Linked DNA regions of Homo sapiens: region 2 is linked to region 1. The links come from fine-mapping of genetic effects on gene expression. A gene starts in region 1. The other region holds a variant in brackets. All regions are shown on one strand. Distances are from middle to middle.

What was found.
Region 2: its variant is fine-mapped to the expression of WNT5B in lymphoblastoid cells (GTEx, PIP 0.97).

Annotation. Positions count from the first base shown.
Region 1 is chr12:1,616,754-1,632,385 of GRCh38, forward strand. It overlaps WNT5B (Wnt family member 5B), which reads left to right and starts at 12,478. Exons shown (of 5, transcript NM_032642.3): 1 at 12,478-12,618; 2 at 14,545-14,681. The coding sequence starts at 14,602. RefSeq lists silencers at 13,396-13,585, 13,616-13,675, 13,630-13,924 and an enhancer at 14,106-14,205.
Region 2 is chr12:1,531,392-1,543,549 of GRCh38, forward strand. LOC107984507 (a long non-coding RNA gene) reads right to left here and starts at 801. Exons shown (of 2, transcript NR_160736.1): 1 at 715-801; 2 at 1-380. RefSeq lists enhancers at 2,167-2,366, 2,517-2,666. The variant G/A (reference allele first, on the strand shown) is at 3,882.

The DNA of each region.
Region 1 (15,632 bases):
TAGAGGGACCCACATTACTTAGAGCTACTGGTTTCCCCCCAGATAAAAACCCAGGTGTCGTTTCTGCATGAGCAGTGAGTGACGAGGAGAATTCGCTTGCAGCCTCTCCGCTACGCTCTGCCTTTAGAGTCCCTCTAGCCGTGGTCCCTGTGTTGCCGCTTGCCCCTGGGTACCTGACTGATGAAGACAGGCTCTGGGGCTCGCCGTTGAAGGTGCTGTGGACCCAGGGGTGCTGTCCTTCCGCTGTTCCATTCATTGCAACATTCATCTCCTGCCTGTTTACAAAAATGAAGCAATTATCCTATTCTTCCAAATGGAAACTGCTAATTTTTGAAGCAGAAGGTTGACAGCTTCAGTAAGATCTCAAGAGAGCGAGAAGACTGGAATCAGGTGAGGCCATAACTTCTTATCTAAACTTAGTTTCTGGGGTGGAATTACAGAATTGCTTAGAAAAAGAGTCAATATAACTACTTGCAGAAAATACCACCTGTAAAAATCCAGATTTATAAATGGTGACTATGCATTTAGTACAATGATTATCATATATGTAATATATAAAATATATATATAATATGTATATTGAGGTCCCTTTAAAGAACAGCATGATGGGCTGGCTCATGCCTATAATCCTAGCAGTTTGGGAGGCTGAGGCAGGTGGATTGCTTGAGCCCAGGAGTTCAAGACTAGTCTGGGCAACATGGTGAAACTCTACAAAAAAATACAAAAATTAGCTGGGCATTGTGGCATGTGCCTGTAGTCTCAGCTACTCAGGATGCTGAGGTAGGAGGATCACCTGACCACAGAGAGATCAGAGCTGCAGTGAGCCATGATCACACCACTGCAGTCCAGCCTGAGCAACACAGTGAGACCCTATCTCAAAAAAAAGAAAAGAAAAAGAAAAAAGAACTGCATGGCAAATTTGAAAGTCTTTTGGAACATGACTTGTGAATGCTCCAAACATTCCAAAATGAATGAGTGAAGTAGCCAGGAGAAAGACAGCAGAGAGCAGTGGGGATTTGGGAAAGTTAGAGAACCTGTGTGCCACCCACCAAGACATTCATATTCCAAAGATTTGTAAACATTGTGTTAGTCAAAGACACTTGGGCTGGGCGCAGTGGCTCATGCTTGTAATCGCAGCACTTTGGGAAGCCTAGGAGGGAGGATTGCTTGAGGCCGGGAGTTCAAGACCAGCCTGGACAATATAGGGAGACCCCCATCTCCACAAAAGAATTTAAAAACTTAACCAGACACAGTGGCTTACACCTGTAGTCCCAGCTACTCAGGAGGCTGAGGTGGGAGGATCGCTTGAGCCCAGGAGTTCGAGGCTGCAGTGAGCTGTGATCATGCCACCGTACTCCAGCCTGGGTGACAGTGAGACGATGTCTCCAAAAAAGAAAAGACAGCTAGCTGACTGCCAGTTGGTGATCCTGGTTTTAAAAGTTGCATGGTTTCCCCAGGTCCTTTAAAAATACGCTCCATTTTGCAAACACAGTAGTACCTCTACTTGGTAGCACAAGACACATTTTTATTCTAATTAGCGCATGGCATAGAGAGAGGTTATCCACCTGCCCTTGGTGGTGATCCAGAAGTCCATTTATTTACTTCATTCACTCTAAGTAGACAGGAATTTGCAGAAAACAGTAGCAATTGCACAAATAAATGTTTTTCCCCTATAGTACAATACCCCAGAACTCTAGATCTGGTGAAAATAGATTACTTGCAGGACAAGAGCATCTAAACACCCCTCAATCCTCCAGCCCTTGAAAACAAAGTCCATAGCCTTGTTCTCTTGAAACAATTCCTAAACCACACTGACCTGTGACCTATACACTTCTGCCTTCTTTTCTAGAGCATATTTTAAAACTATTTTATTAGTATTCAGGAGAAGGGAACTTCCTCTTTCTTATCATCTGCACAGAATAAGACTTCCAGTGGACTTTTGCTTGATACCTGGGGAGAAAATTGTGCTTTTCCAAGTAAGATGAGTCATCTGAGATCTGCCATTTCTGGGAATTGTACAGGGACCCAGAGTCTTAGGGATCTGCTCTGCCTACTTTGTGGAATTTATTCTCACAGTGCATGAGTTGGTCACTTTCACACTGCTCCAGGCACCAGGAGTTGGAAGCTGGAAGCTCTATTCTCTGGAACATCAGGCATTAGATTTTAGTGTGAAGGCCTCAGGAATTGTTTCTGCGCTCCTGCCACCCTGCACTGTGATTGGGTCTGTTTTGCTATATACTTCCCAAATTGTGTACCTTATCACTGGGAATGGCACACACATTTCTGGGGAAGGGTAGTTTAGCATTTTTCTTAAGGGCCAGAATTTAAATCTCATCACTCCTACCAAGCCCCCAGCCCCTCCCACCAAGCCCCCAGCCCCTCCCCACCCCTAAGACATTTCTTCTCCTGCAAGCCAGAGAAACAATGAGAAAAGACACAGAATATTTGGGAGATGAGGCTTCCCAAAGGACTGCTGCAATCATGGTGGAGCTGATACAACCCTCTCCCCGCCCAATTTTTTATTTTCATTTCTACCAACTGTAGATTATGCATACACACAAGCAGATCACACAAAAGAATACTATGCCTCAGGGCTAGGAGGATTCATTGAGCAAAGCTTGGAAGGAAGAACTAGAGAGAAACCTAGAGACAGAGACCCTCGGGAGAAATAATTAAGGCTGGCAGGGAAAGGCTGTGTTAATTGAGCTGAGAAGAAAGATGAGCATCCGGGGATTCTCGTAAGAGGTGGTGGAATTTGCAGATAAAGTCATTGGTACATTATTGGATTCATCTTTGGTTACTACTTTTTAAAAATGTTTTTTGGGGAAGAATGCTATCTAGAAAAAAATTCATGCAAGAGAAACAGATAGCTACAGAACTAAATAGTAATAACTGACCAAAAAAAAAAGTGAGACAGAGGGTGATTTTGCCATATCCTCATTTCCTGGACTGAGCAAGAGAGGAAGCGAAATGCTGAGTCGGCTCCTGGCGTAGCGGCTGCCATTCATGTGCCGTTGATCCAGGCCTGGCACTGCGAGAGCAATACCCATTGGTTTGCACAGAACTCCCTCCCACCAGCCCCACCTGCCCTCAAATAGTCATCCCACGTGGTTGTCTCTACCTAAATTTCCCAACATGTTTCTTTTTGAGTATGAGGATCTTCTTTTTTAAGTCAAAAAATAAAAATAAAAAAGGTCACATGCCCCATGAGACCATAATTGTACTTTCCGCCAAGAAAATATAATATATAAAGACCTTCAAGCCATTAGGTATTAATATGACTTTTTTATTTTTAAATATTTTTGTTGTCTAATATAATGCAGAAAATTGCATACAGCATAATACATGCACAACTTAATAAACTGCTGTAGTGTGAACTGCCACATATCCATCACCAGGTTGGAAAATAGAACATTGCTGGTATCCCAGGAACTTCCTCGAGCCCCTTCCTCATCACAGCCCCCTCCCTTGGAAACCACTCCCTGATGTCATCATTTCCTTGCTTGCTTTTCTTTATGGCTTAACCACCAATGTGTGGGTCCCCAAACAAGATAGTTTTGCTATGAATGGAACCATAGTTCATATACTTTCTTGTGACTTGCTTCTTCTCAATATTATGTTCAGAAGATCCATGCATGTGGTTGCATGTAACTTGTAGTTTGTTTTCCTTCCTGCATAATAATTCTTTGTTGTAATATATCACAGTTAATTGTTTTGTCCATTCTATTGTTGATGGATATTGTTGCTTCTGGTCTGAGGCTATCAAGAGTGCTGCTATTCTTTTGTTGTTGTTTTTTTTTTTTGACATGGAGTCTCAGTTTGTCACACAGGCTGGAGTGCAATGGCGCGACCTTGGCTTACTGCAACCTCCGCCTCTTGGGTTCAAGTGATTCTCCTGCCTCAGGCTCCCAAGTAGCTGGGACTACAGGCACCCGCCACCACACCCAGCAAATTTTTTTTTTTTTTTTTTAGACGGAGTCTCGCTCTGTGGCCAGGCTGGGGTGCAATGGCACGACCTTGGCTCACTGCAACCTCCACCTCCCGGGTTCAAGCGATTCTCCTGCCTCAGCCTCCCAAGTAGCTGGGACTACAGGCATGCGCCACCACCCCTGGCTAATTTTTCTATTATTGGTAGAGACAGGTTTCACCATGTTGGCCAGGATAGTCTTGATCTCTTGACCTCGTAATCTGCCCGCCTCAGCCTCCCAAAGTGCTGGCATTACAGGTGTGAGCCACCGCGCCCCACCCTGTTATTTTGAAAGTTAGAGAACTGCCATGGGGAAATTCATTTATCCTTTCAAGAGATAAGAATGGGACATAAGATATTGCAATTTGTTAGAGAAAAAGAGGTCAATTAGCAGGCTCTTGTAGTAGCTCATAGTATGACAATAGGAATGTTGAGTAGGGAATATATTCAAAAAACACTATAGAGATACAATCAAGAGACCTTGGCAATTGATTTGACGTGGAAGGCAAAGAAGAGGGAGGAGTCACAAAGGATACCAAGATTTCAGGCCTGGATACAGGAAGAGAATTGGAAGACAGAGAACACGCATGATTGATATGAAGGTGTGTAATCAATCAGCATTTTAACTTCTATATTTGGCTCTCTAGGAAGATTCACTCAACCCACATTTTATGATCAAAAGGACAGTATCCAGGGTGACTGGTCCCCTATGTCTTTGACCCCATTCCTGCAGTGTTGCCCCCAGAAACTGGAAGCATGTCATGATGGGAGTTTTCCTGGGTAATTGATGCTGAATTATCAATGGGAATACCAAATCAGATTTTTTAAAAAGTTAATTTAACATTTATTATTTTTAGAGACCTCTGTCATCCAGGCTGGAGTGCAGTGGTACAATCATAGCTCACTGCAGCCTTGACCTCCTGTGATCCTCCCGCTTCAGCCTCCTAAGTAGCTAGGATTACAGACATGTGCCACCATATCCAGCTATTTTTTTTTTTTTTTTTGGTAGAGATGAGGCCTCACTATGTCGGCCAGGCTGGTCTCAAACTCCTGGCCTCGAGTGATCCTCCCATCCCGGCCTCCCAAAGTGCTGGGATTACAGATGTGAGCCACCATGCCTGGCCCCATATTAGATTTTGGAGGGACTACATAAATTTCACGAACAAGCAATTCTGAAAACAGTGGAAATTATTGAAGTCCTCCTTCATTGCACTATCTCTCCTCTTCTTCGAAAAGCACCTTGAAATTTTCTCTTTGACCAAACCACATCTTCATGTGAAATCCTTTCTGCTGTTTTCCTCCTGTTAAAAGCCCTCATATTCTTCAAGGCCCTACTCAAATCCCACATCCTGAGTACAGCTGCTCCCTTAGGCTCTTCTGACACTTCTTTTTTTTTTTTTTTTTTTTTGAGACGGAGTCTCGCTCTGTCGCCCAGGCTGGAGTGCAGTGGCGTGATCTCGGCTCACTGCAAGCTCCGCTTCCCGGGTTCACGCCATTCTCCTGCTTCAGCCTCCTGAGTCGCTGGGACTACAGGCGCCCGCCACCACGCCCGGCTAATTTTTTGTATTTTTAGTAGATGACACTTCTTATAGTGTACTTTTCTGGGCAGGTTTTCTGTTTTCCCCAGCTAGACCAATGCACCTTGGGGCACTCCCCAAGGTCTTACACATTTTTACATTATCTTATTAAGCAGTGCCAGCCTTTACTCTTAGAAGCTGAATGTTACTTATGTCTTTGAGGAAAAGACAGAGAGTTATGTCTGGGACCAGGAATCTCCAAAATCTCAATTAGCAGTGGATTCTCAGATAAGGGGAGGTACAGTCAAGCAGCTTCCTCACAGCAAATGGACCAAGTTGTATGGAAGTCGAAGGGACTCTCCTTGTCTTCATGAGAGGCTGGCCTTCGTGGCCTGCTTCCTCTTTCCCTGAGAGCCAGAGGAGGGCTTTTCTTTTCTTTCAGTCAACAAATATTTTTCTAGCAACTCCCACATACCCCTGTGTACTATCCTATCCACTGGGGAGAAAATGGTAAATAAGACCGTTTCCAGAGCATATGAGGGACAGAAACAAAAGCACAACAGATGAGCATGCCACACTATTCCATGTCACATTAAATGCTGTGGCTAAAACATGTGAGAAGCTAGAAATAGAATGATGCTGCTGGGGGCCTTCTTTGGCAGAGATGGTTAGAGAAGGCCTCTTGGAAGGTGTGGCCTCAATGACAAAGGAGCTTGCTCTGCACAGAGAGAGGAGAAACCATTCCCAGAAGTCGGCAAGGCACAGCGGGGAGAAACAGGATGGGTTTGGGTAAGGAGGTATCAGGAGTTTGGGGTTCTAAAGCACAGCATGAAATCCTAAAGAGGATGGAAAGGTTGGCGGGGCCAGATTCTGGAAGGCGTCATGTAATGGGGTGAGGAGTTATGACTCATCCTTTAGGAGATAGGAAACCTTTGAAGGGTTTTTTGTTGTTTTTTTTTTTTTTTTTTTTTTTTTTGAGACGGAGTCTCGCTCTTTAGCCCAGGCCGGACTGCAGTGGCACAGTCTCGGCTCACTACAAGCTCCGTCTCCCAGGTTCACACCATTCTCCTGCCTCAGCCTCCCGAGTAGCTGGGACTACAGGCGCCCACCACCACACCCAGCTAATTTTTTGTATTTTTAGTAGAGATGAGGTTTCACCGTGTTAGCCAGGATGGTCTCCATCTCCTGACCTCGTGATCCGCCCGCCTCGGCCTCCCAAAGTGCTGGGATTACAGGCTTGAGCCACCGCGCCCGGCCTCTTTGAAGGGTTTTAAGCAAAGAAGTCACATGGTCAAATCTAAGCTTTGAACAGAGCTCCTCGATCGCTATATCTACTGAAAGGCAAGACAGTTTTGTGCTATCGAAGTAAGAGCCTTTCTTGCTGAGGACATAGTTTCTTGGTGAGTTTCACTGTTAAGGCCAATCTAAAATGTCCCTCCACGTTCTCTCCAAACCTTATGTTTCTTCACGTGCACTCTGTACCTCACCTCTGCATCTTCCATGAGCCCCTCACACCAAACCAGGATCCACCCTTCCAGACCCATAGCTCTTGACCTGGTTTGTCTTTTCCATCCCAAAGTAAAACTAAGTACCAACTCTTTAAAACTATTATGTTTTAATTCCTCCAGCTTTAAGCAGCCTGGCCTGTTCTCAACCCACATATCATTTTGGCTAGGGGAGAAGTCTAGTTCTTTCCGCCCACAAGGCTGTGTGTGTATCTAAGTGTGTGTATTAATACTAGTAACTTTGCATGTTTTGTAAACCTTGCTTTTTGTGATATCTCCTGCATATCAGAATGTTGTTTTCTGACTTTCACACTATTCGCAGCCGTAGTAACAGGGCAATGGTGCAACGAAGAAAAGAAAGAGGCTGGGTACCGCGGCTCACGCCTGTAATCCCAGCACTTTGGGAGGCCGAGGCAGGTGGATCACCTGAGGTCAGGAGTTCAAGACCAGCCTGGCCAACATGATGAAACCCATCTCTACTAAAAATGCAAAAATTAGCCGGTCGTGGTGGCAGGCACCTGTAATCCCAGCTACTCGGGAGGCTGAGGCACAAGCATCACTTGAATCGGGAGGCGGAGGTTGCAGTGAGCTGAGATCATGCCACTTGCCTAGGCAACAAAGTGAGACTCTGTCTCAAAAAAAAAAAAAAAAAAAAAAAAGAGAAAGCAGAGAAGGTGTTATGCTCTAGTGACAGGGAGGACCTGTATTTGGGGAAGAGTAGAAAGATCTGGATTCCAAGCCAGGGTCAACCATTCAATTGCTGTATGAACAAGTACTTAATTTTAGTTTCCCTGTTTTCAAAGTGAGAATAATAATGGCATATGCCACAAATGTTGGCAGAGATTAAATGAGAAAAATAGATGTGAAACATTTAGTGCAGTGCACTAAGAGGTGCTCAATAAATGTTGATTAATACTAGCTATTGTCACTGGTTATCAATCAAAAGACATTTGTTACTGCTGAGTAAAACCATACTGGGCGCAAAGGGGCTCGCAGAGAAAGTAGAAAAGGTAAGTTTGAACCTTTAGGAAGCATTTGATCTACTAGAGAAGTAAGAAGTATATACTTCACCTGAGAAACAGCCCAAGGCAGCATAAGTGGGGTAGGGAGGTGCAGACCAGATACATGGATTCATAAGGGCCGAAGAGGTTGAGACCTCTTCGGTCTCAACCCATGAGAATGAGATTCTCATGGGGTGGGGTTAATCAAGCACAGTTTTATGGAGGGAGTGAATCTTGAGCCTGGATGTGAAAGTAGTTTAATATCTGGATTGCTGCAGAGCAGAGGAGAATGCTTCCTTGGGAAGAGGATCAGAATGAGGTCTTGGGGGAAAAGTGGGGTTTGTTCTAGGAGTAGAAGGACATTGGAAAAGGAGACTTCATGTTGGGAAATTCAGGAAAACAATGAGAGGTAAGATGAGGCCACATTGGAAATAAAGAACTGGGAACCACTATACGTTTTCAAATAGGGGAATATTATGATGTAAAATTAGTATTTTAGGGAAAACTGGTATTGTGTCTATGTGCACTTGTGAGTGAGACCACGAAGAACTACTCTGGTGTTCAGATGCCAGAAGGGTGAGTACTCACCTGGAAATTGGGAAGGAAATGAGTGAACCTGATGTACATTTTAGGAGGTATTTGTCTATTGTGCTGAGGTCCATAAACAGTCTTTCTCTACAGTACGAGAAATGAGTGGCCAAAGGGAGAGAAGCCACAGGACTCCAGCTAGCAAGGCCTGCTCCTCCTCCACCTGCCCCTCCCCTGTCCCATGGAAATCATCCAGTCTGAGGCCCCTCCTTCAACAGCAATGCAGCCAGGAGTTCACAAAGGGAAGCATTTCCTTTCCAAAGACTGCTAAGATGGTTTACCCTGTTATGCCAGGAATGTTAACAAAATTGCAAATGTACTTTTATTCTTTTGTTTTTTCTCTTTTTTTTGAGACGGAGTCTCACTTTGTCACACAGGCTGGAGTGCAGTGGTGCAATCTCGGCTCACTGCAAGCTCCACTTCCCAGGTTCAAGCGATTCTCCTGCCTCAGCCTCCCAAGTATCTGGAATTACAGGCACCCATCACCACGCCCAGCTAATTTTTGTATTTTTAGTAGAGATAGGTGTTGCCATGTTGGCCAGGCTGGTCTCAAACTCCTGACCTCAAGTGATCCACCTGCCTCAGCCTCCCGAAGCGCTAGGATTACAGGCATGAGCCACCGCACCCTGCCTGTTTTTTTTCTCTCTCTTTTTTTTTTTTTTTTTGAGGCAGGGTCTCAATCTGTCACCCACGCTGAAGTGCAATAGCACAATCACGACTCACTACAGCCTTGAACTCCTGGGCTCAAGCGATCCTCTGGCCTCAGCCTCCCAGGCACCACCATGCTCGGCTAACTTTAGATTTTTTTGTAGAGACAGGGTCTCACTGTGTTGCCTAGGCTGGTCTTGAACTCCTGGGCTCAAGCAAGCCTCCCACCTCAGCCTCTCAAAGTGCTGGGATTATAGGTGTGAGCTACTGCACCTGGCCACAAGTGTATTTTTTTTTTTTTGAGACAGAGTTTCACTCTTGTTGCCCAGGCTGGAGTGCAATGGCGCAGTCTCAGCTCACTGCAACCTCCACCTCCCGAGTTCAAGCAATTCTCCTGCCTCAGCCTCCCGAGTAGCTGGGATTACAGGTATGTGCCACCGTGCCTGGCTAATTTTGTATTTTTAGTAGAGACAGGGTTTCTCCATGTTGATCAGGCTGGTCTCGAACTCCTGACCTCGGGTAATCCACCTGCCTCGGCCTCGCAAAGTGCTGGGATTACAGGCGTGAGCCACTACTCCAGGCCAAGTGTATTTTTTTTTTTTTCAGACGGAGTCTCACTCTATCGCCCAGGCTGGAGTGCAGTGGCACGATCTTGACCCACTGCACGCTCCGCCTCCCAGGTTCACGCCATTCTCCTGCCTCAGCCTCCTGAGTAGCTGGGACTACAGGCGCCCGCCACCACACTGGGCTAATTTTTTTGTATTTTCAGTAGAGACGGGGTTTCACCGTGTTAGCCAGGATGGTCTCGATCTCCTGACCTCATGATCTGCCCGCCTCGGCCTCCCAAAGTGCTGGGGTTACAGTTGTGAGCCACTGCGCCCGGCCGCCAAATGTATTTTTAAATTACACATTCTATAGCTCCCCACTGGGTGACCAAGTAAGAGTGCTTTTCTTTTCTTTCAGTCAACAAATATTTTTCTAGCAACTCCCACATACCCCTGTGTACTATCCTATCCACTGGGGAGAAAAATGGTAAATAAGACCGTTTCCAGAGCATATGAGGGAAAGAAACAAAACCACAACAGATGAGCACGCCACACTATTCCATGGCACATTAAATGCTGCGGCTAAAACATGCAAGAAGCTAGAAGTAGAATAATGGCGATGGGGGCCTTCTCTGGGAGGGATGGTCAGGGAAGGCATCTTGGAAGGTGTGGCCTCAGTGACAAAGGAGGCCTGCTCAGCACCCTTGAAGAGGTCCCCACCTAGGCTCGTGGCTATTTCTGGACAGGTTTCTGGATGTGACGGTGCCTGTCTGAGGAGAGGGGCAGATGTGGGAGGTGGCTCCATTTCCTGCAGGAGTCTTGAGATGCTTGAGTCCCTGGGTGCTGGGGAAGTCAGTTCTAGATATCAGTGGGTTTGTGTGAATGGCTAATGACCTGAAATCAACCCCTCATCCTGTGGGGCAGAGATGTTGTTTCAGGCACTGCTCTGAAGTATGGTGGAAAGCACAGAGTTGCTTGGGGTCTCAGCTTTACCTGTCCCGGTCTCTCTTTTTGGTCTCTTAACTCTAGGCTGGATGGACATGGCCCCTTAAGGAAATGAAAGTGAGTGACTGAGTCCTAGCAGAAAAAGGAGGAGATCTTGGAGTTCCTGTCTTCCAACACGCACCTCTTTGGTTGTGATGGTGAAGTGGGACAGTGCCATCTCAGCAGGGACCTTGGATGTGCTCTAGAGGGGGTCTTGGAGGTGTAGCATCGTTACATCCCCTCCCACCATCCTGCCTACACAGTGGTTTTGGGGGCACAGATATTTCAGAGAGTAGTCTTCCCAAGAACCCTACATCAAGTATGCTACCACCCCTTCCCATTCTTGATTCTGGTCCCCTCTTTATTTTCCTCATAGTATTCACTGGACCTAACTTATGATACATTTGTTTGTTCACTGCCATGTCTCTGGCACTTAGAGCAGTAACTGGCACATATTAGGCACCCAGGGTGTAATTCATTTGATTAATGAATGTATTGAATGGCTGCATGGATGAATGAAGAGGAGGAACAGAGCAGATGTCTGACCAGCTCATTCTGGCTTCTGGAAGGATCCTGATTGGGAATTTTGCATCTTTCCCTCCCCACAGCCTCCTAGTCACTACTACTAAAGAATAGAGACCCTGACTCCCACTTTTTTTTTTTTTTGAGATGGAGTCTTGCTCTGTCACCCGGCTGGAGTGCAGTTGTGCTATCTTGGCTCACTGCAACCTCCACCTCCCAGGTTCAAGCGATTCTCCTGCCTCAGCCTCCCAAGTAGCTGCGACTGCAGGCATGTGCCACCACATCTGGCTAATTTTTATACTTTTTTATTACAGGTGAGCTTTCACCATGTTGGCCGGGCTGGTCTCGAACTCCTGACCTCAGGTGATCTGCCCACCTTGGCCCCCCGAAGAGCCCCGCATTCTTAACTACTGTGTTTGGTATGTTTGAATTGACACTTGCCTCTTAGGAAGGGGAATCTTTTTAGACCCTGGGGAAATCTGTAGTTATTGCAAAGGCCTTTTCCTGCCTGTTGGGCATTTACCAGATCTTTCTTCCTACACAAGGAGAGCCTCCCCTGGTTGAATCCTGCTATAAATCTCACTAGTGACCCACAAACAGGGGTCCCAATGTGACCTGCTCATTAACACAAAACCGTCAGCCCCCATACAGCTTCCTGCCTTCCCAGTCGGGTTGAGGCAAGAAATTTCCATTCTGCCCATGCTGATGAAACCAGTCGCCAGCATTTACCTTTCTAAGGGGTCCTTTCTCCTCCCACCCCAGCCCACCCCAGCACAAGAATGTAAGAGAGGGCAAACAGCTGCCTGGCTTCAGTTCTATGGCCACTCAAGAATTGGCTCGCATCTGTCTGCCAGGACAGAGAGCGTCCTGAGGGGGCTGGTGTGTGTGTTGTGTGTGTGTGTGTGCACGCGCGCGTGCATATGTGTGTATGGGGGAGTTCAGTTTCAGGTACCACACATCTGGAAGTCAGAGAAAGAAGCCACTGCACATGTTAGAGCCATTTTGGGGGGCAATTTTTAAAAAAAAAAACATTTTTAATGGGCTGAGAGCCGCCTCGTGGAAAGCCCGGGGCGGGGGATGGAGTAGAAACAGCTGCGGGAGTGATTCTTGTCTCCATATATGTTTATAAGGCACTGAGGGCGGGATTAGCAGCTCCTGGGAAGTCTGGCTCTAGTTACCGTGTCAGCCTGTCCTGGGGGCAGTCACAGCCACAGTGACCATTAGCAGGCACCCAGGCCTGTCTTTGGCTCGGAAACGGTGGCCCCCAATGTAGCCTAGTTTGAACCTAGGAACTGCAGGACCAGAGAGATTCCACTGGAGCCTGATGGACGGGTGACAGAGGTGAGAGGCACTGGTGTGAGGGACAAGTGTCACAGGCGGGGAGGAAGAACTCCGCTATCTGGTGGTGGAAATGTGTGAGGATCAAAGTCCCCAGGGAGAGTAGGTGTTGCGGGCGGCAGGGTGGTGGGCTGGGCACGGGCTGGGCATAGGCTGGGCAGGAGGCTTCGGGGCCGCGGGGAGGAGGCTGGAGAAGCAGGAGGGCACGGGCGGCCCTAGCTCTGCAACCCCGGGAAGGACTGGTAGGTGGAGTTAAGGATATTTGGACAAGGAAACGCTTTGAAGCTTTTCTCTCGTCCTCCCTACTCGGGACCTGGTCGCCTCCCCTCCATAAAACCATTAGCTCCTGGTGCCAGCCCTATCTCTGCTCCATCTCTCGTGGTTCCAGCCGGTGCATTCACAGACCTTCTGCCCCGGGGGACGAGGAGGATTTATGGGGGGAGAGGAGAGGGGGAGGGGCATCCTCCAGAGGAGGGGGGGTCTGAGGGGAGTCGGGCGTGGAAGCTGTTAGTCCCGGGCTGGGGGCCGGCTCACTTCCGAGCTGGCTCTGCATGACAAAGGGGAAGGAGCAAGTGTCTTCTTTGATCTGCCCCCTGCCGGCCCCACACACCTGCCTGTTGGTGCCCCCGCCCCAGCCGAGGCTTCGAGAAGGAAAATCAAAAGGGGGCTTGGGGAAGGGCTGTGTCCCAGCTCTCCTGGACCCTGCTCGGGCCACTGTCCTCTCCTGGCGGCCCCAGGACAAAAATACTTCCCGGGCTGATGACCCGAAGCACCCGCCGCCCCCTCCCGGGGAGCCTGGGGACGCCGACGCGCGAGAGTGGCGCAGTGAGCCGGGGCGCGCGGGGCTGCGCTCGTCAGGTCCGGGGCCCCGGGGAGGCCGCTGGGGGCGCGGGTCACGCCCAGACGGGGGCCCCGGAGGACCGCGGGGGAGCCGCAGGGGCCGTGTGTCCCGAGGCGCAGGCTCGCTCTAGCAGCACTGACCTGCTGCGGGTCCCAGGGCCTGGGGACAGGGGCTCTCGGGGGCGGATAGAGGAACAGGCGTGGGTTACAGCAGGCAGGAGGCCAAGAGGCGGGAGGCCCGGGAGCCAGCAGGGAAGGGCTGTGGCATCTGGAAGATGCGTCCTCAGCTCAGGCATTTGATGCCAGAGCTGCCGCCTGGCGTCGGCAGTGTCCCCGGTGCAGCTGCTGGGCAAGGTACTCGGTGCCGCCCTCGAGGACCACGGTGCCGGGAGGGGCAGGGGCCGCCTAGGGAGGCACCACCTCAGCCGCCAGAGCTTTCCGGGCGGGCGGTTCGCGGCGTGGCTTGTACATTTCTCAGAGAAGCTGCCTTGAGAAAGTGAAAAGTCCTTGATCTGTACGCAGGGGTTGGGACTTAGGAAACCCGCTGAGGGTGAGAAGGGCGCAGATGGAGAGGGGAGACTCCTCCCTGGGTGCAGGTAAATCCAATTCACCAAAATGTTTTAATCCTACAAAGGAGAGCCTGAGGGTCAGAGAAATAAGTCTCTGGGCTGGAATGAGAGGTAGGCACGTGGGGGAGTGGATAGGATGGGCCCCATTTCTTTGGATGTTCTGCAGCAAGGACAGGTATGCTTTACAACAGCCGAAGTGGCCTCCCGGCTGCCGAACGGAGGAACGCCGCAAGCTCCGCTCTTGAAATTACTTGTTTTCATTTCTCTTTGTGGTTTCTCAGCTCATTATTTCTTTGGAAATTAGGTCCTGTGCAGGGTTCCCACAGTTTGGGGTAAGAGACAGAAGTCCTAGGGTGGGAAGATGAGCAGTGGGAGGCGGAGGCTGGAAAGAGGCCGAGCTTCTTTGTGGGGAACACGCAGCACGTAAGCATCAGTGCAACTTTCTCCGCCTCACCCCGGCTCCTGGTCTGCCCTTATCCGCTGAGTTTCCACACTGACTCTCCATTTCTGTTTTCTCCAGGGAACCCTACTCTGGAAACTGTCAGTCCCAGGGCACTGGGGAGGGCTGAGGCCGACCATGCCCAGCCTGCTGCTGCTGTTCACGGCTGCTCTGCTGTCCAGCTGGGCTCAGCTTCTGACAGACGCCAACTCCTGGTGGTGAGTAAGAGGGGCTGAGGTCCTGCCTGCACAGCCGGAGGCCTCCTTCAGCGACTGAGATGAGGAGGAAGGGCACCGTGTGTCACGGTAGTACCTTGATTCCTGGGAGTACTAAGGGCCTCTTTTATCCCAGGAAAACTAAGAACGCTCTGTGTCTCTCTCAACCCTTATCTTTGTAAGGGTTCCCTGAGGATAAAGGTTCCGTTCATTTGATTTTTTTCTCTAATCCTGTCCACATTCCTTTTCCTTGGACCTTCCCTCATGCCCATGAATTGTTAGAAATTGCTCTTGGGTCAACAAGAATATCAATACTTGGTAGTTTTTTGTTCCTTTGTTTTGTGTGTTTTGCTGGTAGGATATAGAATTCCTCTTTTATAAGTCTGAAGGCCAGATGAGGGGTTCACAGCACCATGGGTGGCTGGCTTTCTTCTTATGTTTTAAGGGCTGTTGTCATTGCCAAGTTGACAGGGAAATGGCAGGCGATCACCACCTATTTTGCATGGTCTCTGCCACTAGCATTTTTACTCAGATAGCAAATCTGCAGCCTTCTCATCTAACACTCTATATGGCTGGTAGATGATGAGCAAAAGGGAGAGCCTCTGAACTGGTGGAGAGTGGATGAGGGGAAGCTCAAAGTGAGACATGGCAGTGAAAACAAGTAGACTAGATCGTGATGTATGTAAAGTGATTGGATTTTAAAGGCCCAAAGGGAGTACCACGCAAAGGATTGATTGCTTTCCATGGCTTATCATGTACTTGGGCTGCACTGAACTAGTCACTCCTACTCATTGAATGAGGCCTGTGCTCTCCTGTTGAGGTTTGGCTCTTTTTGCCCTCTATTAAAATGAAGAGCTGCTCCCCACCCCTCGTCTTCTTATCTGCCTGACCCCCATTCTTAAGATCCAGTTCAAATTCTGGCCATTTCCTTATAAAGGCTTCTCTTCAGCCATA
Region 2 (12,158 bases), 87 kb before region 1:
CGCTCGGCTTTGTGCTTCTCCGGTCGCTCCGGCGCTCCACGTCCCCGCCGTGGGAGAGGCGGGACGAGACCTCCTCCTTCACTTTCTTGGAGCCTCGGTGGACGCGTAGCCCGCGCTCCAGTCGGAGCCGAACCCCCGGGTATTTGCTGCAGACCGCTGGGAGAGGCAGTTCGGTTTGCGGGGAGCCTGCCCGGCCCTGTTTTACAGGGAGGGAAACTGAGGTGGCCCCGGCCCTGCGTTGGTTACTCAGCTGAAGGGGTGTGTGTGTGTCCGGTGTCCCCTCCACTTCACCCGGGCCCTTCTTCACTGCTTTTGCCACCTGGCCACGTTGGCAACAGCTTCCAGTTGCTACTCCCCTGGGCAGAGGTTCAGCCTGGTACCTGGAGGAGAAAAACTAGGGATCGTGGAATCAACCCCCCAGACTGCTCCAGGGGCCCCGGAATGTGCCCAGTCACCAGAGCTGCGATGGGACGTCTGTGCCCGTGCCGTCAGTGTGGAGCCGAAAACCCTGGCTCGGCAGGGCAGGGGCAGCCGCTAGCCAGCCACCAGCACTCGTCCAGGCACACGGGGGAAGCCTAGGGAGCCCCCTCCTGTGGCTGGCCCCTAAGGCAACGGAGAGCCCAGGCAGCAGCGGGCACGCCCTCAGAAGGCCTAAGGACCCTTTCCTGCACCCAGCCTCTCCTGCCATCCGATTAACCGGCAGAATTCACTTACGCAAAGGCAAGACTCCCCATCTCAGGCACAGACGAGCGGATGCCAGACCTGGAGCTTGCAGCCGCACCCCTGCCTAGGCTCACACACACAGGTCCTGGCAAACACACCGACCTATTAGAGGTGGAAGACTGAGGGGTGGTTTTCCTCCATCTCAAAATAGTGTCTGTTCTCGCTTTGACACACAAGATTCGTGGTTATAAATAGCAAGAAGGAGGAGGTGTGTCTCCTTGGAAGGATGGCAGTGCTGAAAGAGACCTCTTAGGCACCCTTGTGAGAGGAGTGATGGAGCTGGCGTCTTCATGGTGATGACAAGTCCAGCAGTCCAAGGGAAGGGTCACAATTAAAACCAGGGCTTTTTACTAACAGATGCAGGTGGCGCGGACAACAGGGCAGGACGTGAAGGGAGTAAAGGAACCTAAAGTGACAATGGATGGGTCAATACCCAAAGGCAGTCAGGAGAGACATCTCCCCTTCCCTTTCTTTCTCTTCTTAAAGACAGTCAGGCCAAGGGCGTGTGACACTCTGTGGGATCTGCCTGCCAGGGGAGCAGGAGCCAGGCTCGGAGGAGCTGGCTGGTCTTTTTCCACCCATGGATTTCATACTTTCCCAGGCTCTGATATCTTATGTATTTGAATATGAATAGGTGATTGAGCGTGTGTGTCTGTGTGTTTCTCCAAGGTATCTGAAACCGGTCCCCTCTTTAGTTCATTTGGTGATTGTAATATCACCAGGGGTTTCTTATTGACTTGAAACTACCCTTTTCTAAAATTTTTTCTGTCCAAAAAGCATAAGTTAAAGGGATATTGCCAAAATTGCTGGGAGCCATATGCTGCGAAAAGAAAAAATCTGGAATTCTTCTTCCCTTGTGTATTTCACCCTCTGACTCTAGGGGCAGCTGAAAGATTTTTTGTTTGCTCTTCTTCAAGGTCAAGAAAGGCAGAGGACTAGGCTGGTCTGTTCTAATTTTTAATTCTAGGATGGTTCTGCTGCTTTCTGGATTGCCGCAGCCTGGCTTCTCTAGCATGGAGGGAAGTTTTTACGTGTGGTGATAGTCCTTGTCTTCTCTGAAATAGAAACCAGTCAGTCCAAAAAAGCTCTCGTGTCAGCGAGAGCTTTTTCTCTCTGGCTCCTTTTCAAACCGCCTGCCATTTATCTCCTTCATCTTCTAACCAGGTCTTCAGAGCCCATCTTTGCTCCAGCGCTAGTCCTGGATGCAGTCCTCAGAGTGTGTGGTCGTGGTGGTAGTTACTGGTTGTTGGGTAACTCCATCAGGTCTCTGAAGACACACAACAGCAGTAGATGTAAAAGCCCTCTGGGCAATGAGAGCATGTGGGAGCTCCACTTACGGGCAGCCTTGGCTGGTTTCTGTTGAGCGTCTTCACCGTTATCTACGAGTCCAGAAACATCCAGCAGAGGGATTGTGCATCGATATTGCCATCAAGATGAAAAGACATGCTCATTTTAAATCTGAGCCACCCTTTAAAGTAAAACTAACCTTCTGTCCATCTCTGGGGCGCAGCCTGTGTGCTCCCCCAAGCAGCATGCTGGAGGAACCCTGAAAACGGATCCGCTGTTTGGTACAGTTCTGGCTGGACTGTTCCCTTCAGCGAGAAATGCCCCAACTCTGGAGAGCAGGTGACTGCACAGCCCCTACCAGGCCCTCTCCACCCCTGGCCCGGCTCTGTTTACCTGGCTAAATTTAAACCTCCGCCCCCTCCATCCCAGTTTGAGCCACTGGCTTGCGGTCTCGCCACTGGGCTGGCTGCTGCGGCAGCATTTCCTGACTTCTTCGCCCCTGTGGTTGCAGTGTGGTCTCTTTGTGCTGCATGAGTCCTCTTCTAGGCTTTCTAAAGTTGGTCTCTCTCCCCGCTGCTTCTCCACCCATGTGGCTTTCTTCCCATCTCTTTCCTCCTGGGTGAGTTGGAACCTGGTTCGGTACTGGGGGAAGATGCTCTCCCCTAACCCTTCCAGATACTGTGCACGGAGATCACAGGAAGCCTAGACTCAAGCTGTCATTTAAGGTCCTCAGGGGGCTGTGCTGACTGTAATCATTACCCAGCCTGGCTGCCGGGCTGTCGGATCCCCTTTGAGTAAGCACGTAGGGTGCTGGCAGCAGTGCAGCCCTTAAAGGGACAGGGGCATTCTCTAAGGTCTTTGGCACCCCAAACCTCCAGCTCCCCTAAGAAACCAACCCACCTGGATGTCCTGTCCTTTGCATCACTGTCTTTTCTTGAGGTTTTGCTGGGGAGGGTGTTTGAGTGGGTTGGGGTGCACACGGTAGCTTCTCTCTGGATCTCAGTAATATTTTCTTTTCTTTCCTTTTTTTTTTTTTTTTTTTTTTTTTTAACAGGGTCTTTCTCTGCTGCTCAGGCTAGAGTGCAGTGGTATGATAATGGCTCACTGCAGCCTCGACCTCCTGGGCTCAAGTGATCCTCTCACCTCAGTCTCCCCAGTGGCTGGGATTGTAGGAGCCGTGCACCACCATGCCTGGCTAATTTTGTTCTTTTTTAATTTTTTGTATAAATTGGGTTTCACTATGTTGCCCAGGCTGGTCTTGAATTCCTGGGCTTAAGTGATTCTCCTGCCTCAGCCTCCCAAAGTGCTGGGATTATAGACATGAGCCACCTTGCCCAGCCTTGCTTGTCTTTTCTATAAAGTGAGAGCATTGGGTTAGTTGGTCCCAGGGGCCCCTTCCAGCTCTAACATCCTGTCACTCTGAACAGCTCGAGCTCTTTCAGGTTTGGGAATCCCTCTGCTGTGGACAGGCCTGGAGTGTCCCCACCAGAGGGGTGGGGGGTGCTCTGGGCCTGCTGCTTTCACAGAGTTACTGTTTCACCAGCCGTGGTCTCAGAGGCAGGGTTTGTGGTCAAGCTGGAGGCTCAGGTTGTGCTCCTGGCTTTGGGCTTGGGCCTGCCAGGGGCCTCTGTGGTTCGCTGGCATCTGGGAGATTATGACAAGCCTCTGTCTCCAGCTTTGGGTGACTTTGGGGCTGGTGCCTGAGTTCTAGGGGGAGGCACCCCAACCTTTCTTAAAGGGGTATACAGTCTCCTCTGTAGCCTCCTAGAGCCCCAGAAATGCTAACTCCTAAAAGGTTACTCCTGTCTGATTTATACAGTGGATTTACTGAGGCCTGGGAAACGATAGCTGGCCTTGGCTTAGAAAAGGCA[G/A]TGAACTCAAAAGTTCTTGGTTTACACACTTTAGCCCCCAAAAGTCACTTTAGAGTTATCTGCAAATGATTAATTGTTGGATTTGCTCTGAGTCCTGTTGTGGAAGCAAAAACTGTAACATAAAAATATAATGTTATGAAAAATCTAAAGTAACAAAGCTTTTCTGAGGCCAGCTCGTGGTCATCCTGTTTGCTGCTCTCAGTGTGGCTCCTCTTAAAGAGGTCAAGCCCAGAACCGAAGGTGCGCAGCCACAGAGCAGCCCTGAGCTCCTGGGCTCTTGCTGGTGTCGTGCCTTCACTGGTGACACTTCCTGAACTTAACCAGTGGATGGACATGGGCAAGAGGCCAGTGGCCCCGCACCCATTTTTCTTACCGGTGAATATCCCCCAGATGACAGGAGGCTTGTCTTGCTCTGGGAGGTTGGGGCAAAGTTGAGTGCCTGTCATAGACTCCTCCCTAAGGTTATAGATTTCACCAGTATTTGTTGAGAAGTTTCTCCTGAGAAATTTTGAGTAAAGAATTACTGAATTTTCTTAGAAATCTTGTTTGGGGGTATGAGACCTGCAATCAAAGCAATTAAACTTTTAAAGAGATTGTGTATATAAATTGAGAACTAGAATATCACCCTTGGGAGCGGGGGCTGGTGAGTGAAGGAAGAGGGGGCATTTTCAGTTGCATTGATAGGGTATATGCTGGGACGAGGAGGGCTTTTGAGGCAGACTTCTGGGTGCAAACCCCAGCACAGCTGCGTCACCTGAGGTAGGGCAGGTTACCTGACTTCTCTGTGTCTCTGTTTTCTTACTTGTGTACTGGAAACCGTAACTTTATACCTATCTCTATGTGGTATGTGGTGGTTAGGACTAGTGTACATAAAGCATCTGGACCATGCCTGGAGCCTTGTGGGGCTCTAGATGCGACAGCTTTTGTGGTGATATTGATGAAGGGAAGGAAGAGGGAGGCAGGTCGATGGGAGAGGAGAGCTCAATGCTGACGTGGTCCTGCGCAGTTGAGAATCCGGCGAGTCCCTGGCTGAAAAGGAGGGGGTCCTGCTGACCCCATCTCAGAGGCATCTGTCGTTTTAACTAAGCAAATGCTGATATGTTCCCTGGATTTGGAAGTCACCCAAAATCTTAACTTGTTGCATTTTGTTATTCTTAAAAAGGTAACCTCTGTGAAGTCATATCTAAAATCAGCTTTAGGCTGGGCAAGGTGGCTCACGCCTGTAATCCCAGCACTTTGGGAGGCCGAGGATCATTTGAGGTCAGGAGTTCGAGACCAGCCTGACCAAAGCTCATCCTAAGCTCGGGTGATCCTCCTGCCTCAGCCTCGTGAGTAGCTGAGACTACAGGCACGCACGACCGTGTCCGACTAATTTTTAAATTTTTTGTAGAGATAGGGTCTCATTATGTTGTCCAGGCTGGTCTTGAACTCCACTTCAAGTGATCCTCCCACCTTGGCCTCTCAAAGCTCTGGGATTGCAGGTGTGAGCCACCACTGCTGGCCCATTGCCTCCCCTTTGCTGTACGACCTTCACTTGGCTTCCAGAGCATCTCACTCTTCCAGTTTCTCTTCTTGCTCATCGGCAGCAGCTCACCTGGTTATCTCTTTGGACCTCTTGTCTTCTCTATGTACAGTTATACGCTGCATAAAGATGTTTCGGTTAATGATGGACTGCATAGACCACAGTGGTTGCATAAGATATTTCACTGTGCCTTTTCTATGTTTAGATTTGTTTAGATACACAAATACTTACCACTGTGTTCCAGCTGCCTAGAGTATCCAGTACAGTCACATGCTGTGCAGGTTTGCAGCCCAGGAGCAATCAGCTAGAGCATCTCACTTGGGTGTATAGTAGGCTCTACCATCTAGGTTTGTGTAAGTTCACTCTGTGACACTCACACAGTAATGACATTGCCTAATGACACGTTTCTCAGGATGTATCCCTGTTGTTAGGCGACGTGTGACTGTACTGTACACTCTGATGGTTGTAAGTACTGTCTCTACCCTTAGGAACCTCATGGTTTTGTGTCTTGCCTGCTCCTCTCTCTTGAACTCCAGACCGGTGTTGCTGAAGCAGCACCTCCTCTACAGAATTACATGCCTCTGAGCTCGTCCCTGCCTTCCCATAGCCCTCTCCATCTCATCCTCCTTGTTGCTCATGCTGTAAACCCTGGAGTCAGTCTTGACTTTTCCCTTCTCTCCCTTCTGACATCGAATCCATCAGTGATTCTTGCCAAATCCAAATTCAGAACGTTCTCAGCACCCTGATGACTTCTCACCTCCTCTACCCTTCTCATCCCGGCTCATTAGGAGGCACCTCCTAATTGGTCTTTCTGAGTTAGTTAGGGCAGCAATCCTGTGTGATATGTCAGATCTTGTCACTTTTCTCTTCAAAACCTTCCAGTGGCCTTCCATCTCATGCAGGAGAAAGCCAAGTTCTCACACTGGCTTGCAAGCCCTTGGTGGGCAGCCCCCACTTACCTCTGCGACCTCACCCTAGCGAGGACTTCTGTGACTTTCCTATATAGATCATAACCCTTTCATCATTCTCTAGCCCTCTTCTCTGCTTTATTTCTCTCTGTTATACCCATGGAACATACAGGTATTTTATATTTCCCTTATTGGTCCTCTGTCTGCTTCCCCTTGCTAAAACAGAAACACCACAAGGGCAGGGGTTGTTGTCTGTTTTGTCCACTGTTGTATCTTAAAGAGTACATGGGACAGTGCCTGACACGCAGTGGGTGTTCAGTGAACATTTGCTGAAGGACTTAAGTGGATGAAAGACAGCGGTTTCACCTGTTGGCAGGGAAGAGTGTTAACAGTGGGAACAGGCTGAGCGTGGTGGCTCATTCCTGTAATCTCAGTGCTTTGGGAGGGATGGCTTGAGGCCAGGAGTTCTAGACCAGCCTGAGCAACATAACAAGACACCCATCTCTACAAAAAATTTTAAAAAGTATCTGGGTGTGGTGGTGAACACCTGTAGTCCCAGCTACTTGGGAGGCTGAGGTGGGAGCATCCCTTGACCCTGGGAGGTTGAGGCTGCAGTGAGCTATGACTGTGCTGCTGCACTCCAGCCTGGGTGACAGAGGGAGACCTTGTCTGAAAACAAGCAAACAAAATCGTAGGTTCTTCCTCTGCTCCGTTGCTCCCTCCCCATCTTGGCCTCCTTTGCCATACCATAGAGGTGGGGCAGCTGGCGAGAACATGTGGCCCTGGGATATGCCTGTTTTATCAGAACTGATGAAAGTATAACATGTTCACTGAAAAACATTGACTTTTTTTCATTTTTTAATTCATTCATATTTTCATTGAAAATATGAAGAAAATGATGATTTTGAGTTATCATTGGTAGGATTTTGGTGCATTCCTTTTCGGTTTTTTCTGCCTGTGTGTACAAGCACACATGTATTTACAGGCTCAGGTGTGTGTTTCCACACATGCGCGTCTCCTCCGGACAGGTGGTGACACCTTGAGGGCCAGCACCGTGCCTGTTCTCCTCCTCTCCAGCTCCTCTCTTGAGCCTGGCGTGGATCGGGTGCACACAGTGGTAGATCACAGGGATGGCTGGACAAGTGCGTGATCTGTTTCCTGGTGAGCACCTGGAGTCCATGCAGAGCCAGTCCCTGTGATTTCTTTGCCTTTTTGGTTGATGAGCTGCTGGGTAAGGGCAATGTCTTCACCACTTTTGTTTCCTTAAGGTTGTTCAAGAGTCAGGTTTCTCAGCCCCGACACCATGGATATTTTGGACCCAATAATTCTTTGTTGAAGAGGGCTGCTCCATGTATTGTAGGATGTCTGAGAACACACCTGGCCCCTACCCACACGATGCCAGTAGCACCCCACTCCGAAGGATGACAACCAAAAATGTCTCTGGACATTGCCAAATGTCCCGTGGGGAGAGCGGGAGGGAGCAGAGTCACCCTGGGAGACGACCGCTGTTCCAAAATGCCTCTGTTTTTTTCCTGACAGTCTTCCCTTGTTTTTGTTTCTCCTAAATCCTGTGGATTTATTATCCGTTTTACATCCTATTTCCATGCTACTGCCGAGGGCAGGCCGTTGGGGAGCTGATGTGAATTATGGCAGCAGCTTTCTCACTAGCTGTTTGTCCCTGGGCCCACCCTCACAAGGCCATCTCTCCCGCTGCTCCCAGGTGGACCATGCCGCTACCCTCTTCACCCATGAACGGCCACCCTGCTGATTAAACAGGTCCTCAAGTTGAACGAGGTGTCCTGTAGCAGAAGAGGTTTTGGTATTTACTGTGTAGTTGGGGTATCAGCCTTCCTTGGCTAGTCTGGCGGTGATTTTCAAGCTTTTACAAGTCTTTGCGAGCCCGTGCTTTCCGTCCTGTCCGGTGGAAAGCGCATGGCCTTGAGGCTCAGGGGGACTTCGGTTTAAACTAACTCAGCTGTTCAAGCCTAATTGGCTTGCCTTGCCCATTTAGGTTTTCTGAACTCCAGTTTCTTCACTGTTTAAACAGGGATAATAATGCCCAACTCCTAAGGTCATTTTTGAGAATGAAATGTGATAATTTTGTGAATTAGGGCAATGCCTAACATGTATCATGTACTTAGTCAATGTTAGGTCCCACTTTAACACTTCATTGAAAAAAAGTAAAAGTGTCAAGAAATTGACACCTAGATTCTGAAATACCTTGTCGGAATTTAGGCAGAAGATCAGAGTGTTTTATAATTTGGTTTATTTTGATGATTGAGGAGACAAAGGAGACCTGAGAATTCACTTCCATGACAGCTGCTTTTACCGAAGACCTGTTGAGAGGTCTGCAGCTCCAGGCTCTTGGACTTTTCCTGGACAGTCCTCCCAACCAAGAGGTGGGTTCCTGGATGGCAGGAGTGATGTCCTCCTTGTCTGGGCTCCTCTCTCCTCACTGATAATCCCACCACTCGGCGTTGCTGCTGCTCAGCCATATTGACACGTTAATGAGCTAGTGACTTCTAAACAGGTTATCCTCCCCGGTTCAAGAAATCCAGCCATAATTACCATGTTTCATCGATATTAAGATGCATTTCAACATATCTGAGGTCAGAATGCATCTCAGAATCAATATTGTATGACAGTTTGATGACAAGTACTTTTCTTTCTTGGTGGTACAAAATAATGGTGCATTCTAGAATCAGTAGCATCTTAGGTTTGGTGAAATAAGGTAATTGATCACTGTTTACTAAGGGGACCTGTTGTCATTTCCTGGTGCCTAACTTGGTGTTCACTTGGAAATGCACTTTTGTATTTTGCCAAACAGAATATTTGTTTCCTGTCACCTTCAAGTTGAACATCTATTAACCATGTTAAAATTGAGAGAGGAAATTCTAGGCAAAAACTGGACGTCCCATGGACCCTGGACCCTGATGCTTGAGCCTGCTGGGCTGCTCGTGGCCACCTGGGAATCAGCAGTCCAGGATTTCTGCCCTTGCATTGCTGAGAATCTTGAGCAAATGTGCTCATCACTGCCAGTCTCCCTCTTCTCATTGGTACATGGAGTCACAGTGTAACCCCTTCCTATCTCATAGAACCGCTAGGGTCAAGCGACATGGCGTGTAGGGAAGTGCTTTATACCCAACGGTAAGAACAACGAAGTGCTGTTCCTACCTGATACGCAGAAGGGAACTGTGACCCAAAGACTTGTTTAAATTCACTGACAAAGCACAGCTCCAGGTGACTCAGTGTTGATTCATACCTGGCACTTGTCTTCTTATTTGTCTATTTCTAGGAGAGAGACTTTGAAATTATAGAAACTTGTCTGGTGAGATGAAATAGTATCCCAAAGGATCAAAAAGAAGTTACATCCTAGAAGTAGAATGCAAGCTTTTTTTTTTCTTTTTTCATTTTATGCTTTCCTGTTTCACTGCCTTGGCACTGGAAAATATGGGGTAAAATGTTGTTAACATTAACACAAATATATTTATCATGAAGAGTAAATCTAATCTCTTATGTACAGTGTTTTAAAAAAATCAAGTTCTGGCCAGGCGCAGTGTTTCACGCCTGTAATCCCAGCACTTTGGGAGGCCGAGGTGGGCGGATCAGGAGGTCAAGAGATCGAGACCATTCTGGCTAACATGGTGAAACCCCGTCTCTACTAAAAATACAAAATTAGCTGGGTGTGGTGGCGCGTGCCTGTAGTCCCAGCTACTTGTGAGGCTGAGGCAGAAGAATCGCTGAAACCCGGGAGGCGGAGGTTGCAGTGAGCCAAGATCGCGCCAGTGCACTCCGGCCTAGCGACAGAGCGAGACTCCGTCTCAAAAAAAAAAAACAAAAAATTAAGTTCTGCAGTGCAACAGGTGCTGGCTCAACCCTCGCCCCAAAACCTCATGGCAGTGTGACCAGCACACACAGGTGACCTTGAGGCAAGTCAGCCAAACTTGCTTGACCTCAGTTTCCTCACCTGCTAAAATCTTAAAAAGCTGTTGTGAGGATGACATGAAATGAATAGAAAGCACTTACGTTATAAATGCATGCAGAGCCTTGCACTTAGAAAGCACCAGAAAATGTTGGCTCTAATTATGCTTCTGAACAACCACAAAACGCGCTATTGTGCAATTGCCAGTGACTGGTTCTGCCGACAGAATCAAAAGCTTGGTTGTGTCTGGGAGGAAGGAATGAAGTGGTGTTATTTTCATACTTAATGCTGGCGTTAATAAGCTACACACACATGTCAATTTAACAGTAGTCTGACCTAAATAATATTGCATTTTCGACACATACAGCATGTTATACAGTAACCAAATCAAGAATCCTGGTCGAAACCTTACCAAACAGCTTTAAAATATTTCCTTTCAAATGAGATTCTTGAAGTTCACTGTTACCCACTCCATGTGCTGAAGTCTTAAGCAGCATCCTACTTTTATGCTTAAAAGCCTAGGAGACATGGCCGGGCATGGTGGCTCACACTTGCAATCCTAGCACTTTGAGAGGCCAAGGTGGGTGGATCACCTGGGGTCAGGAGTTCGAGACCAGCCTGGCCAACATAGTGAAACCCTGTCTCTACTAAAAATACAAAAATTAGCCTAGCCGGGCATGGTGGCGGGTGCCTGCAATCCCAGCTACTTGGGAGACTGAGGCAGGAGAATCATTCGAACCCAGGAGGTGGAGGTTGCAGTGAGCAGAGATCGCACCATTGCACTCCAGCCTGGACGACAGAGCAAGAGTATGTCTCAAAAAAAAAAAAAAAATAGCCTAGGAGACCTGCCCTCAAAAAATATGCTGTGGGGAGATGGTGTCCTGCTGATCTCTCTCATTCAATATGGCATACAGACTTCTGAGAAGTTACCATGAACCTACTTTCACAGTTGAGGGCTAGGGAAAGTCTTATAGTGTGAAATTCATTAGCCTCATGCGCTGTGTGAAATTCATTAGCTTCACACACTCTGCCCTCTCTGTATTTCTTTCTCCACTCCCCACCCTGTGTTGCCACAGCTGAATGGTGGAGGTACTATTGACTTTTTCTTCTTCATCAACTTTATTGAAGTATAACTTACATACAGTAAAATTCGCACGTTGTACGTGTACAGGTCAATAAATTTGGACGAATATACACACCCATGCAACACCACCCCAATCAAGATACTTCTGCTTTTGCAGAAATCTCCTTGTCTCCCTTCCCTGTAGCCACACCCCACCACCACCCCAACTCAGGCACCCACTGACCTGATTTGTGTCATTCGAGATCACTTTAGTCTGTTCTAGAATTTCACACGAATAGATTTATACCAGAATTATGGTTTATTTTTCAGCTTTTTGGTATTTGGCTTCTTTTGCTCAGCATAATATCTGTGGGATTTATCTAGGTTGTTGCAGGTATCAGTAGTTCATTCTTTTTTTTTTTTTTTTTTTTTTGAGACAGGATCTTGCTCTGTCACCCAGGCCATAGTGCATTGGTGCAGTCATGGCTCACTGCAGCCTCAAAACTCTGGACCTCAAGCGATCCTCTGCTCTCAGCCTTCTGAGCAGCTGGGACTATAGGTGTACGCCACCATGCCTGGCTAATTTTTATTTCTTTATTATTATTATTATTATTATTTTGAGTTGGAGTCTCGCTCCAACTTAGTTTTTTCTTATGCTAACATTTTACATAACCATAGTACAATGATCAACAACAGGAAATTAACATTGTTACAGTATTGTTAATTAATTTACAGACCTTCATCCAATTTCATCAGTTTTTCCCTAATGTCTTTTTCTGGCCCCAAATTCAATCCAGTATCTCACATTAAATTTAATCATCATGTCTTCTTAATCTCCTCCAGTGTGACAATGCCTTAGTGT